Linked DNA regions of Homo sapiens. The protein of the gene in region 2 interacts with the protein of the main gene of each other region in a pairwise test. Each region holds a gene or a part of one and is shown on either strand. Other genes may lie near its edges.

What was found.
Region 1: the proteins of NAV2 (region 2) and ADAT2 interact in binary tests that used the Homo sapiens proteins (3 or more experiments, as listed by UniProt).

Annotation. Positions count from the first base shown.
Region 1 is NC_000006.12:143,433,368-143,441,142, reverse strand, and holds part of ADAT2 (tRNA-specific adenosine deaminase 2), read left to right. Parts: intron 1-2; exon of another isoform or gene 3-90; intron 91-2,448; coding exon 2,449-2,553; coding exon of another isoform or gene 2,554-2,557; intron 2,558-7,161; coding exon 7,162-7,312; intron 7,313-7,775. UniProt on the Homo sapiens protein: Probably participates in deamination of adenosine-34 to inosine in many tRNAs.
Region 2 is NC_000011.10:19,932,278-19,940,052, forward strand, and holds part of NAV2 (neuron navigator 2), read left to right. Parts: intron 1-898; coding exon 899-2,000; intron 2,001-7,383; coding exon 7,384-7,496; intron 7,497-7,775. UniProt on the Homo sapiens protein: Possesses 3' to 5' helicase activity and exonuclease activity. Involved in neuronal development, specifically in the development of different sensory organs.

The DNA of each region.
Region 1 (7,775 bases), on a different chromosome or scaffold from region 2:
AGTTCTGGAGGCCAGAAGTCTGAAATTTTAGTGAGCCCCAATCAAAGTTTTGGCAGGGCCGAATAACTTCTGGAAGCCTGCCTTTTCCAGGTACTGAAGTGACATTTATGACCCATCCCTCCATCTTCAAAGCCAGCAGTGCAGCATTTTCAAATCTCTCTCTCTCTCCTTCCGTTATCACTTCGCCTCTTGCCTTCTGTGGGTGCCTTCAGGACCCACCTGAATTTGGGATAATCTCTCCATCTCAAGATCCTCAACAAATATTTTTTGCATGAATAAATGATTTGTCTCTTCTGTGTACCTTGATCTCTGTGTAATTCTACACTTACCTTAAATAAAATTCTTAGTATAATAATTGCCATAGCTACACTGGTAGTTAGCATTTCCATTCTCCTTAACTGTCCGTCTTCTTCCTGGCTTTCTTCTCTATAGTAGCCTATGGTGCATTTGTCTATATTAACCAAACCTCGGGACTCTTCAAGCCTTTTGAACTTGCATAAACTGGACATGCTTTAACCACTGTCACAGAACTGGGACACAACCGGCCTGTGGATAGTTCATAAAATAGTCCTGAATGCAGTCTTACTGCATCAGATACTGTCTTCTCACATCTCTCCATGCCCCATCTCTGACCCACCAACCAGATGGAGAAAAGAGAGGCCCAGTTTGCTCCTGCTGTGGGCGTCTCCTTTTTCCTCTAATGGCCAAATGAAGAATAAGTGTCCGTTGAACATGGTGGGAATAACTGAGGAAATCCTGTATGCCTTATAATAGGAAGTTGTCACTAGTTAAATAAAGTAGAACTGGGAGTAAGAGACTGGTGCAGGAGACAGAAGACACTGTTTTAACAATGCCTTCAACTTTGCACTTTATATGCCCTATGATGTGTGTAAGTACCTGCACTTAAGTGAGAATCAAGTCTTCCAAAGTCTCTTCAGGGCTGCCACAGTAAGGAATACCTTGCCTTTCTGGAAACAGCTGTACAGCAGTTATATTCTTTTGACTGCATTGAGATGGGAATGAATGTACACTAGTCCAAGGGTTGTACTCTTCCCTTATTCTGACTCTCAGAGGCAGTATCAGGTTATACTGAGGCATAACCTGCCTGCTTAAGCTCTCCGCCTGAAGGTAGAGTTAATTTTCCTAGGGCCCAGAGCTGCTATCATGGGACAAGAAGAAAAACGAATGGCCTGTGATAAAGGGAACTTTGAGAATATAATAATTGGTTTGCCATTCCTGGGATGGTAGTCATGGAAGTGTTCCTAAACTTGTTTTTCTCATTGATTTTTTTCAGTTGAGGTATACTTTATATACAGTGAGATGCACAGGTTGTAAATGTATCCTTCAATCTGTTTTGAATAATGCAAACATCTCTGTAATCCATGTCTTTATCAAGATCCAGAAAGTTTTCACCACCTCAGAAAATTTTTTTGTGTACCTCCCCAATCAATCTGCACATCCTCCTCCATGAAGCAACCACTGTTCCAGTTTCTGTCATTGTAGTTTAGTTTTATCTATTCTGGTACTTTGTGCAAAAGGAATCATATAGTATGTGTGCTTTTGTGTGTGACTTCCTTTACTTAGCATGTCTATGAGGCTCATCCATGTTGTCACAGTATCAGTAGTTCCTTTTTATTGCCGACTAGTATTCCATTATATGAATAGGACACAGTTTGTTTATCCATTTTCTTGTTGATGGCCACCTGTGCAGTTTCAGGTTTTGGCTATTAACATTCTTTTTCAAGGTTTTGGTTCTTTTTCAAACTTTCTTTCTTCTTCTTTTTTTTTTTTTTTTTGTAGACACATATTCCCTTCTTTTAAATACTTAGGAGTGGAATTTTGTTATAGACTGTGTGTGTGTTTACTTTTTAAAGAAATTTCCAAAACGTTTTTCATAATGATTGTGCCATTTTACATAGAGTACTTCTAAACTCTTATTGTCTCACATAGAGTAGAAATTGTGGGACAGGGTGACATCCAGTCTGGTTACCTTTAGCTATTGGGACTCTAGAGGATAATTTCTATAATTTTTAGAGAAGCAAAGGAATTTCAGTGAGGAAAGGATTGTAATAAAGGATCTATAAGTGTTATTTAGTCCCCTACCTTTTTGCAAATATGTATTCTATCTCTGAAAAGACACATAGACCCTGGCACTTCAAGAACAGTGGTCAGTCACAGTCTCCTTTGATCACGTCTATTTCCAATGAGAAGACATCAGGGGCTCTGGACCTATCAAGGGGATTTTTTTTGAGTCTCCCTTAACATGGACACAACACAGAACACGGGCACTAAATACCGTAATGGAACTATATTCCAGAAAAGGGAAGGCTGCACTTCTTTGTTTCAGTCTTTGTACATGTGTATCTTGTTCATGCTGCATCTCTTTCTCTCCTATACTCTCTTCAAGTATGGAGTATTACGTCTTACATTTTCCACTTTGTGTTTCAGGCCAAAGAAGCCCTCGAAAATACTGAAGTTCCTGTTGGCTGTCTTATGGTCTACAACAATGAAGTTGTAGGGAAGGGGAGAAATGAAGTTAACCAAACCAAAAATGTATGTGAGTTGAGCAGTATAATTGCAAACATACAGTAGTGATGGGTGGACTGGAGAGAATTTACCACAGTTGGTGTGAAGGTGAGACTGAATATAGTCCCGTAGCTGCCAGTGGTGGGTAGCTTTTCTTAACGTCTCTCTTTTTCAGTATCATTTTCTTCCTGATTTTGAAAGTGATACATGTTGATTTTTTTTATTGTGGAAAATTCAGAACAATTTAATGAAGCCATAAAATCTTAGTGAATAATTTTCTGTTTCATAGAGTTTTACTCTAATGCTTGAGTGAAACCCAAGAGGGGATTTTATTTCATCAGAATGTCAGCATGGAAGAAACAAGTCTGTCTCTACTTTAAGCCAATCTAATATATGAAATTTTCATTTTATAAAATAGGTCAATTTAACTCATAATACATTCCTTTTTTAGTACCTTTAAATAATATTTTCATCCTAGTAAGTTAAAAAAGTATCCTCAATGTATAGCTTTGGAGGGAGGTATGAGGATTATATAAAGGAAGCTATTCCTTTATCAGATAATTCAACAAAATAGGGTCTTCAACACCAGCTGCCTCTGTAGCTACATGTAGCATGTACATTTTAATAGCTTGTATGACTTTTATTGTGGTTAGGTTGGGAAGTTCATGGTTCAAGGCAATGCTTCTTAAACATGGTATCACAATAGTGTGTCATGATAAGTATACTTGGGAAGTATAAGTAAACTACCAAATTTTATGATTACAAAAATTCCTAGGTGGACTCAAAGATCACTTATACCTGTAATGCCATTCACACAGACTTTTATCTTGTCATATGATTTTGGGAGCCAGAGAATAAGCTGGTGTTGATACCAGGGCTGTGGGAACTAGTTCATCTATCAATCACATCTATTGAAAAGAAAACTGATATTTAGCAAAACACATGTAAAATAGGAATCCAGATTCACAAATCATTTATTTACTTATTTATTTTTAGCCATAAAATAGAACAGGATTATATTTTAATACGTAACTTCTGTACAACCAAAAAAATAAAACACCACAGTAAAATAAACTGGAATAAACATGGTATTTCATTTGCAATGCTTGACAAAATGTTCACATCCTTAATCAGAAATGAGTTCTTAGAAATCAGTAACAGAGAGACTAATATTACAAGGGAAGTGAAAATAAAAGGAACAGAGGAAAATGAAATAACAACCAATAAGGCTACATGAAGATGATCTAACTTAACTTTAACAGAAGAAAAAAGCAATTTCTTTGTAACATTAGATTATCAGTGATTAAAAATACTGATATCTAATGTTTGAACAGTTTTAGGGAATGGGAAACGTTCAAACACTGGGAAAGCTTACATTGATTATAGGAAATTTACTCAAAATGTAGATTTTGCATATACTTCGCCCTAGCAGTTCCAATCAATAGGAACTGTTCCGACAAAGTAGTTGGACAATTCAGATTTATATATAACCATGTTCACTGCATAGAAAATCTGTAGTTAATATGTCAGCCCCCCAAAAAAACTTTTTTATCAATTTGCTTATGAAAAATAGTAGATCGAAGTGTAGAATTAGAAAGAAAAAAGACACTTAAATAAAAATATAGTATTTCACAAAATTCTTTGTCCTTTGAATTCTTGAAAAAGACAACTTTTTAATGAATCAGTTTTAAATTTACCCTGTAATAAGTGAGAAGCATGAATATATGTAAGTCATACTTTTAATTTTTATTTATTTATTTATTTTTTTTACTATGGAAATGCTTTAATAGAGGTGAACACACAGCAAGAACAGCAAGTGCCCACACAGACATGACTATCACAGAACACATTGTGGGCAAATGAAGAATTCATACCACCCCCGCCCTTAACCCAGTAACAGAAGGCTCTACGCCCCCATTTCCTCAGTCCACTCCTCAGACTCTCCCTCCTCCTCAACAGTGGCATCCTGATACTGTTGGTACTCTGATACCAGGTCATTCATGTTGCTCTCGGCCCCAGTGAATTCCATCTCATTCTTGCCCTCGCCCATGTACCAGTGCAGGAAGGCCTTGCACCTGAACATGGCTGTGAACTGCTCTGAGACGTCTCTGAGCAGCTCCTGGATGGCCGTGTTGTTACTGATGAAAGTGGTGGACGTTTTTAGTCCTGCGGATGGGATGTCCCAGAAAGCTGTTTTCCCATTGTAGGGGATCCAGTCAGCAAAGTAGCTGCTGTTCTTGGTTTGGACATGAAGCATTTTCTCCTCTACCTCCCTCATGGACATCCAGCCCCTGAAAATGGCAGCCTCTGTTAGATAGAGGCCATACTGGGGGTCATAGGCAGCCATCATGTTCTTAGCATCAGACATCTGCTGGGGGAGTTCAGCCACTGTCAGGGCCTTCTTTGTTGTTTAAATGCTCATTTTGAAATACCTTTTTAAAATTTCAAATACAGAAAGTAGAAGCAGTTCTATCTCATTTCTCTATGCAGAACTATTAAAATTTTGCCATATTCTTCCAGACAGTTTTCTTTCATATAAATCATGTAACAATATACAAATATATACAGTCTTTTAATTTTAACTCACATGTGCAATAATTTCAAACAATGTTAAAATAATTACCATTATAACACTGAGAAGTATTATAACTGCCAGGGTAGTCATTCCCATATAGAATTAACATTTTTAAATTAGCCGTTACCTTTTCAGTTAGAAAAAAACAGAAGCATGTACACATACCTCTGCAAACAATTAGCTGATGTTTGTTGAAAAATGACATAATTTTAAATATCAATTTAAAATACTGTAAAACATACAAAAATTCTTTTTGAAAAAGATGTTTTGAAGAATTTTTAAAAATGTTTTAATTACATTCATGTTGAATCACAAAGCAGTTATTAAGAGGATATTAAAACATGAGATAAGTAATAAACATAATACAGCAATTAATGAATGTATAGATACTTATTTAGGAGTAGAATTCTGTATTTTAAATCGTGGTCAAATTTTCCAATTTGCATTTTGTGTATGATGTCTTAAGATGAGAACTTTGACTGTCCTAACAATACCCATCTAACCCCATCCAGTGACCGGGGTTTCTTCTATATGCTGAAATTAACCTGGGTTTATTTTGTTATTCCGTGTCATAAAGAAGATTACTCTATAACTACAGCATAGAAAGACTCTTGACCCCAAATGAGAAGACCTGAGTTCTACTTTTGGATCTGATACCACCACCACTACCCAGTCGCCACCACCACCTCCTCTCCCAGCTGTATGTGATTAACACATGCCAGCTTTGCTTAGCTTCTTTTTCTTTAGTAGTAAGAGAGTTGACTGAGATGATTGAGTTCAGCAATTGTTTATTGAGAGCTGTAGGGAGATTTGATTCCATAATTCTAAATCTGATTTTTTGAAAGCACCTAAGTTGGGGAAACCTTTTTTTTTTTTTTTTTTTTAAACTCTCCACTTAGTTTTGGTGTGCAGCCAGGTTTGGGAACCTCTTCTGTAAAGTACCTTCCATCTCTGGTAATTAGTTCTGTGATTCACCCATGTAGCCCCTTGGCCAGCTCTGCTCCCATCTGCCTCTAGCTTCCATGGCATCTTGGGCCACTGTGCTAGCACTTTTCATACCCTGCCCTATCTCACAGGTAAATGAGCCCTACCAGATTTTATGCTTGTTGAGGACAGAGACTTTTTATCCTACACAGAATTTATTTAGCCCAGTGGCTTGTGCATGGTTAATACTCAGTGTAAATTATTGATAAATACTATTGTCATGAATATTATAAATAATTATTCCATATAGAATCTATGATTCACTTTAAGCTATTTTAGTAAGGGAGAAAGAAAAGGAGACAAGAGCTAGCAGAGTACATGTGTAGTATTATGTGGCACCATGCTTCATGTAATTCAGATTTATAAGGTTTATAAGTGTAGATACCAGTGTATACCATTTTACATATGGGGAATCCTAGACTTACAGAAGTTAAGTTACTTGCGTAAGTCCACATAATTGGTAATGTCACTGTCAAAATTCAAATTTAAATGGAGTCACTTCCACATGCTATGTGATTTCTCCTATCCTCTACTGCTTCCCATGAAGTGTCTGAAACCAATACCAAATCTCTACTTCTCTAGAGTCTTCCAGTATATAAAACCTCATTCCCCAAAAGTGTAAGAGATGACATTCCAGTGAACTTAATGTAGATTTGCTTGGAGTGAGGTCAGTGACAGCCTTGAAAATATATTTGAAACTAGAGCACAAGCTTATGAAAATTTTGCTTCCCCTGAAATATTCAGAAACCATAGACTTTATCTTTTTTTCTTTGTTTTTTAGACTTACCTTCTCCATGGCATTTTAATTGAAAGAGTTTTCCCTAAGGTACTTAGGTACTTAACTAAAAATACAGCATGATTCCTGTGGCATCTCTGATTAGATATCTTTCGCAAGTGAGGTTATGGTACTTGAATTGGGGAATACGTTGTCCACTGCTAAGGGTGTCTTGAAACTGTATTCATTAAAATATTGGCAGAAAGGATAGGCGCATATTTTGTACTTAGTTTTTGTATATTTGTAAAATAGTAGTCACATGAAGCAAACAGCATCAGTGCAAGCCCCTTTCTCTTTTCAGGCTACTCGACATGCAGAAATGGTGGCCATCGATCAGGTCCTCGATTGGTGTCGTCAAAGTGGCAAGAGTCCCTCTGAAGTATTTGAACACACTGTGTTGTATGTCACTGTGGAGCCGTGCATTATGTGTGCAGCTGCTCTCCGCCTGATGAGTATCCTTTGACTTCATGAGTTAATGTATCGTACCATTCGTGTGAACAAGAGAGTGGCCAAACACGTAGCCTGTTTTCCAAAATATGAAAACACAGACTTAGGAAACACCTTGTAAAATATAGTGTGTCTTAGCCAAAAAAAAGAAAAGCTTTTTAAATAGTAAAATGACCTATTTCTTTTCATATCAATAAACATGGAATGATTAAACAAATAATCTAGAGAAAGAAAATATTAGAACTGTCTTAAACAGTTATATAAAGGTAAATCATAAATTAAGTTGAAGTGGATTATAAAACAGTTTGCAAAGGAAAAGTCCTAAAGAATATGCAGCTAAGTTTTGCCTTTGGATAATGGATTATGAGTGGTTTAAATTTTTTTTTCTCTGTTTATCTGGTTGGTTTGTTTGCCATGAATACTAATGTATCAAACATTATCAGTAAAAAGTAAATAAGAAGTAAGAAA
Region 2 (7,775 bases):
AAAAAGCTGTTTTTAAGTCCAACCTGAACCATGTTTGCAACGTGTTTTGGTTTTTTGGTTTGTTTGGTTTTTTTCTGAGACAGAGTCTCACTCTTTTTCCCAGGCTGGAGTACAATGGCATGATCTCAGCTCACTGCAACCTCTACTTCTCCTGCCTCAGCCTCCCAAGTAGCTGGGATTACAGGCATGTGCCACCACACCCAGCTAATTTTTGTATTTTTAGTAGAGACTGGGTTTCACCATGTTGGCCAGGCTGGTCTTGAATTCCTGACCTCAGGTGATCTGCCCGCCTCGGCCTCCCAAAGTACTGGGATTACAGGTGTGAGCCACTGCACCCAGCCATTTGCAACTTTTAAAAAGTGCCAGCATAGGAAAAACTTACATGCTTTAATAGGCTTTAACAACTTTTGTGTGTAATTATTCTTTTTTAAAGATTCTACATGGTTTCTCCTTCTTTTCTATTTTTGTAATTGTTGTATTTTAATGTCTCTGATACATTGTTTGCTTAAAGTTGGATAATTCTTGATTCTTTCCCATAATTGGGAAACAGGCTATGGGATGAATAATTGAAAACGGTAGGTATTTCCTACTCTCTCCTGCACTGGCTGTATTAACGGTGCAGGTGTCTGTTAAGATTTGTTAAGACCTGCATGCTTTCACGTGGCACATGCCACCAAAATGTGATGGGGTTGGGGGGATGTGAACTGTGCAGTATGGAAAGCAGGAGGAAGTCAAGCCAGAAATTAAAACCTAACCACAGATAATCCACAAAGTGGGCAATGGAGCTATACGGCATTTGGGTTGGGAGTGATTGGTTGTGTGGCCATGGCTGACCCTCCCTGGTCTTCAGTGCAGGTCAACAAGTATGATTCAGGCCTCCTCTCTTCTGTCTCTGCAGAGCCTTTGGCAAGTTCAGCCTCCTCCCACCCCGGAATGAGTGACAATGCACCTGCTTCCTTGGAGAGCGGCAGCAGCTCCACCCCTACTAATTGCAGTACCTCCTCGGCCATCCCGCAGCCCGGTGCAGCCACCAAGCCTTGGCGCAGCAAATCCCTCAGCGTGAAGCACAGTGCCACGGTATCCATGCTCTCGGTCAAGCCTCCTGGGCCTGAGGCCCCCAGGCCCACACCTGAAGCCATGAAGCCGGCCCCCAACAATCAGAAGTCCATGCTGGAAAAGCTGAAACTTTTCAACAGTAAAGGGGGCTCAAAGGCAGGTGAGGGGCCGGGGTCCCGGGACACAAGCTGTGAGCGGCTGGAGACTCTGCCCAGCTTCGAAGAGAGCGAGGAGCTGGAGGCCGCCAGTCGCATGCTCACCACCGTGGGCCCTGCTTCCAGCAGCCCCAAGATTGCACTCAAGGGCATTGCCCAGAGGACTTTTAGCCGGGCACTGACCAACAAGAAGAGTTCTCTGAAAGGCAATGAGAAAGAGAAGGAGAAACAACAGCGGGAGAAGGATAAGGAGAAAAGCAAGGACCTTGCCAAGAGAGCCTCTGTGACGGAGAGGCTGGACCTCAAGGAGGAGCCAAAAGAAGACCCCAGTGGAGCAGCTGTGCCCGAGATGCCAAAAAAGTCCTCCAAGATTGCCAGCTTCATCCCCAAAGGGGGGAAGCTCAACAGTGCCAAGAAGGAGCCCATGGCCCCTTCCCACAGTGGAATACCAAAACCAGGAATGAAAAGCATGCCCGGGAAATCCCCAAGTGCCCCAGCGCCTTCCAAGGAAGGGGAGCGGAGCCGGAGTGGGAAGCTGAGCTCAGGACTCCCCCAGCAGAAGCCCCAGCTGGACGGCAGACACTCCAGTTCCTCTTCCAGCCTGGCGTCCTCAGAAGGAAAAGGCCCAGGAGGGACCACCCTGAACCACAGCATCAGCAGCCAGACTGTCAGTGGGTCTGTCGGGACCACCCAGACCACAGGAAGCAATACCGTCAGTGTTCAGCTACCTCAGCCCCAGCAGCAATACAACCATCCCAACACTGCCACGGTTGCACCTTTCCTGTACAGGTAGGAGCTGCCACCCACCTGTGCTGCCTGGGACATTGGGTAAAAGTTCCTTTATAGTGGATTCCGGGTCTGTAAGGGCAGAAGCTAGACTGTGCTCCAGGAATACTTAAGTCAGTAGCTAAGAAACCACGTGATGAACTCCTAAGAGAAGCAGACACAATGTGCTCCAGGGAGCAGTTCATACAGCACAGGTTGGGGAAGGAACAGAGAAAGCTGAAGAAGGGAAGTAAAATGTGAGCTGATCCCAGGATGCATAGGAAAGTGGGGACCCCAGGCCTTGTAGCAGCAGCTTCCCTGAGCAGAAAGCATGAAGGCCTAAATATGAGGGTGGGGGCGGTTTGGTGTCACCCGACAGTCCCCAGCATTAGTCCTAACACATCCCAACATACTTAAAAAATAAATAAAATAATAAACACCTGGCTCAATAACTAAGATTTCTTATAGCAGGGATTGCCTTGAACATCCAGATCCTCACAGTCCCTGCTGAGTGCTGGGGCTTTCTGAAGGGAGAGGGACATTGGGGAGAAGAGTAATGGTAGGGGAGGGGCTGGTCTAGAAGAACAAGAGCTCATGTTCTGAGGAGATAAGCCTGGGTGTTTGTGGAGATGGATGGATCCTTCTGTCTTTATCTGTCCCCTAGCCCCTGTCTCTTTGATGGCACATCCTCAGGACCATGGGAGACTGTGTGGAGCCAGTCCACACAGTGGTGCTGCTGCTCTGTGTGATTCTGGTCAGCGACATTGCTCATTGCTCAGGCTACACCACACCCCTTGCTGAATGAGGCACATGGGATTCAGGGGCCACGTCATACACATGGATGAGTCCACTCCAGGCAGATGGAAGCTCCCCAACCCCTGCCCTTAAAGTTCTTATCATTCCCAGAGCTTTCACTGACAGTGCCTGATTCGATCCTGTGCTGGAGATGAGCAGTGCATTTGGCCACATTGCACAATTGGATAACTAATACTTGTACACACAAAAGAGGATTAATGATCAAGTGTCACATTCTAGACACGTATTTTACAGTTGTAACTCAAGTGCATACAGATGCACAGCTGTACACTCACACTCATACAGCCATACATGTGGACACACATTAAAAGTCACATATAAGCATGGACACAAGTATACATTCATACATAAAATGCAAAGGCACATGTGCATACCCGTATTTACATACCTGTTCAGGTGCATAGGTGCATGCCCAGACTTTCAGCTTGCTATGTTTGTATGATTCCCCAAAGAATTCGATATTCCCTCTTTCCTCCTGAGCTGTGTTCTAGTGGTCTCTGTTACAGTTCCTGCCAATAGCTGGTGGAGGGACTGGCTTAAGTGCTTTCAAAGGAAAGCCAGCCAGCACCAGGCCAGCAAAGGAATGTCAGGCATTGCACTCCTTCCTTTTGTTCTGCTTGCATTCTCCTTCAGTGAGGGTCATACCAATCTTTTTAATTGGGAGAAGGTCTCATTTTATTGAATCAAGTCATCAGCTCAGCTCACAATCCTGAGAGAGCACCAGGGCTTAGATAATGACTCAGCTGGTCTACATACACGGCTTTTGTTTTGTTTTGTTTCTGTTTTTTTTTTTTTTTTTTTTTTTTGAGATGGAGTGTCGCTCTATCGCCATGGCTGGAGTGCAGTGGCACCATCTCAGCTCACTGCAACCTCTGCCTCCCAGGTACAAGCAATTCTCCTGCCTCAGCCTCTCCTGAGCAGCTGGGACTACAGGTGCATGCCGCCATGCCTGGCTAATTTTTTTTTTTTTTTTAATTTTAATACAGACAGGATTTCACCATGTTGTCCAGGCTGGTCTTGAACTCCTGAGCTCAGGCAGTCCACCCTCCTCAGCCTCCTAAAGTGCTAGGATTACAGGCATGAGCCACCGCGCCCAGCCATGAACTGTTCTCTGAAGTGTGGAGGCAACTAAATAGCTCCATATGAAATTTTTATAATTCCAATAGCATTATTAGTCTTAAGGTAATACATATTCAGGATTCACAGCTTCTCAATTTGCATTTTCAAAATTAAAATATGACAGTCTTTGATCACCATCAATCCCATTCCTTCTTTTTTTGTTGTTCGCTATAATCATTTGAAAGATTATAAAAGATATAACCTTTTTTTATTTCAAGCTTTTCTATCAGAAGAAAAAGTCTTAATGATAAAAAGCAAATGTCTGACAAAGAGGAGGAAGAGGAAAACGTCTATGATGTGGATCTGACTAGCCCCGTTTTTACGTTAATGCCCACTCTGGGTAACTAACGTCCTTCTGTCCCCTCTGAGTTGCCTTCATCTTTAGGGTAGTCTGGGAAGTGACGCTGGAAATAAGAGCACCAGGATACGAATCAGGACACCTGGGCCCTGTCCTTTATCAGCCCTTGGTGCCCTCTGAGGTCTTCGGCACTGGCTGCAGGAACAGGTATTGATCGAGTGTGGGTACAGAGTCCGCTAAGGGCTTTCCACATCTTAGCTCACTTCATTCTTCCCACACCTCCATGAGCTAGCAGCTTAGAGGTAATTAAGCAATTTGCCCCAAGTCACAGAACTAGACTAGAGGGGCTCATGTTTAAAACCAGGTGTAGGCTGGGCATGGTGGCTTACACCTGAAATCCCAGCACTTTGGAAGGTCAAGGTGGGCAGATCACTTGAGGTCAGGGGTTCAAGACCAGCCTGGCCAACATGGTGAAACCCTATCTCTACTAAAAATACAAAAATTAGCCTGGCGAGGTGGTGCACGCCTGTAGTCCCAACTACTCCGGAGGCTGAGGCATGAGAATCCCTTGAACCTGGGAAGCGGAGGTTGCAGTGAGCCATGATCACGCCACTGCACACCAGCCTGGGCAACAGAACGAGACTGTCTCAAAAACAAACAAACCAAAAAGCCAAGTCTGTCTAACTAGTGAGACCAGGCTCTTAACCACCAGTCTTGACTCTAAATCACTTTATCTTTATTGTCTTCATCTGGAAAATGAGAAGATTGGATTAGATTAGATTCTATAAAATGGTTTATTCTCCTTTTCTGCTCTAAAATTCTCTCCCTCAAGCTTATGGTTCACTATATATAACTTATAATTGCTCCCCCCCCGCCCACCAAAACCTCTCCATGTTAAAGTTGTTACCAAGGAGTAAAGGGAAGATGGGTCATTTTTTTAAAAATCACTCAGAATGAATTATATTTATCAATTCAGAAGTAACAGTGGATTCATCTATCACTTTATCACTTTATAGTTTACTAAGAGTTGTGTGTCACATCACCTTTCATTTTTATAGAACCAGAGGAGATTGCTATTATTATCCCCATTGTACAGATGAGGATGCTGAGATTCAAAGAGGTGGAGTGACAACTCAAGTTTTGCATGGCTAACAAGTTATAGATCTTAGACCTGGAGCTAGTCGAATATTTAGACTTCCAAGTCTAATGTTCCTTCTAGTACCTAGCATCTTCTGAGACTTAAACATTTCTTATTTATCCAGTCAACACACCCTTCTTGCGTTGCCTGTGTAGCATATGAACTTGAACTAACCTTTGCCTCTGAAGAGCTCTCAATCTAGTTGAGGAAAGATTTACATTTTCGCCAACAGGAGAATAAGGAGAGTGCTATAGGATCACATTTTAGCCAACAAGAGAATAAGGAGAGTGCTGTAGGAACTCCTGGCAAGGAGTCAAGGAAAGCTCTCAGGAAAAGATGACATGGAAGCTGCATCTTAAAGACAGATTAGCAGCGAACTAAGGAAGGAGGAGAAGGGCCTTTAGGCAGAGAGGTTGTAGTTACTGCAAAGATAAACCTGTTAAAGCCATGTGGAGAGAAGCCACATGTGGGTGCAGCATAGTAGAGTTGTATGTAAAGAGTTGGAAAGGCAGGAGATGGGGCTGGAAATAAAGGAAGAATGTGGCCATCATCTACCACAATAAGGGGTTTAGACCTTATTCTGTGGGTAATGGAAACCACCGAAGACAGTGATGTCATCACGTCAGTATTACAAAAGTCAATGAAAGATCGTGTGGGGAGTAGACCAAACTTAGGAAGAGTGTAGAATGGAGATCACAGATTCAGATGCCTAATTGGCCTCTAAATGGTCATCTAGATGGGTGGCTCAGGGTGAGTGGGCCTGTGGCAGAGGGAGCCACGCCTCTTTAGAGGGTGCAGCCACCACTTGGCACCAGCAGGTGGCGATCTGCAATAACAAAGACAGTCCTTTCCAAGCTTTATTGTTTTTACTGGACGAAGGCAGAAATGCAGATATTTATTGTGAAATATCCCGATTTTTAAATGTTGAACTAATTTTAAAACTTTAAAATATTATGCAGACCAGTAGGAATAAGTTGGGCTGGTTTCCACACCGGGCTGCCATTTGTAACCTCTAGGTGTGAGGTACCTGTTTCAAAGTACTCATAAGGCCTCAGCAGAGATGATGAGGGCTTGGACCCTGGCTGGAGGTGAAAGGAGCACAGGGAGTATGAAATCCTTTAAAGGTAAAGATAACAGAATTGAGAACGATGGCCTCAGTAGGAAGAACAAAGGAGGGAAGAACAGTTGGATGACTTGAGGTTTATCAGTACATCCCCCGTGGTCCATTCTCATTCTGGGCAAACGTTTTCTTCACAGGTAGTGAAATCGGTTGAATTAGTTCAGCATGCCAGTGCGTTAATAATGTTACATGCAGGGTCATGCATCTGAGTGTAATTATGCATTTGCATGCCATGCCTGAATGAGCAGAGGTAGCTGTGACAAGAAAACATTGCATGAAGCTGTTGCTTCAATTTGCTTGACAAATAAGGGCATGGAGAGGGTTTGGGGAAGTACAGATTTCAGTCAAGTGTTGAAATAATGATCAATGAGACCTTTCATGTCAGAAGAACTAAGCTCTGAATCAGAGACCTGGAGGGCAAACACACCTGCTTGGCACCCACTTCCGACTGGTTTTATGGTCACCTTTATAGAGAAAACCATGTCAGGAGAATTTTGGGGTGGGGGAGCTGTTAATAGAGTCATCTTTATGTTTGACTTGTTGGCATGGCTGGTTACTTAGAAGCTGTTCTTTGGCATAGGTTAAATTATTCAAATCACCCCGTACCCTCCAGCATGTGTCTGGCTAGACCTAGCATCCTGACGGAGGTTCAGAGAAGCATTCCCCAGTGAGGGATTGCAGACCCTCCATCTGGGCAATGAAAAGTTTATCTTTTACAGTTCAGCGGCTCTCTCTGTTCTTAGGACATTGCTCCACATACGGCTAATGAATTATTTAGCGTCAGTCTGCTGGTCCACTCTGTTCTGAAGCTTCTTGCTACAGGAGGTGATGGTGAGGGCTGTGGTTAGACCACAGTGGTCCAGATGTGGTAGTTGCCTCTCATGACAAGTGTGTCTGCTTCGGTTTGTGTGTGAAGGTCTCAGACGGACACTGAAGGGAATGTTACTGCCGAGTCAAGCTCAACAGGTGTGAGCGTGGAGCCCAGCCACTTCACCAAGACTGGACAGCCTGCTCTGGAAGAACTCACTGGTGAGTATGGAGCCTCAGAAATCTGTGTCTGTTGGTGATGAGGCCTTCCACGCAATACCTGCTGGAACAGCATGAACCCAGCTTGATTACGAGTTGCATTATGTTTGCATTGACTTTGAGCTAAACAAACTTTCTTTCTTTTTTTTTTTCCTATTATTTTTCTTCTTGTTTTTCTTCCCTTTTCTCTCCCTCTTACAGTTTCTTCCCTCCTCCCCAGAATCGTAAACAAGTCTCTTACTGGTGTGCAAATCCTATTTTTAAGATACGTTCAGTTTTATT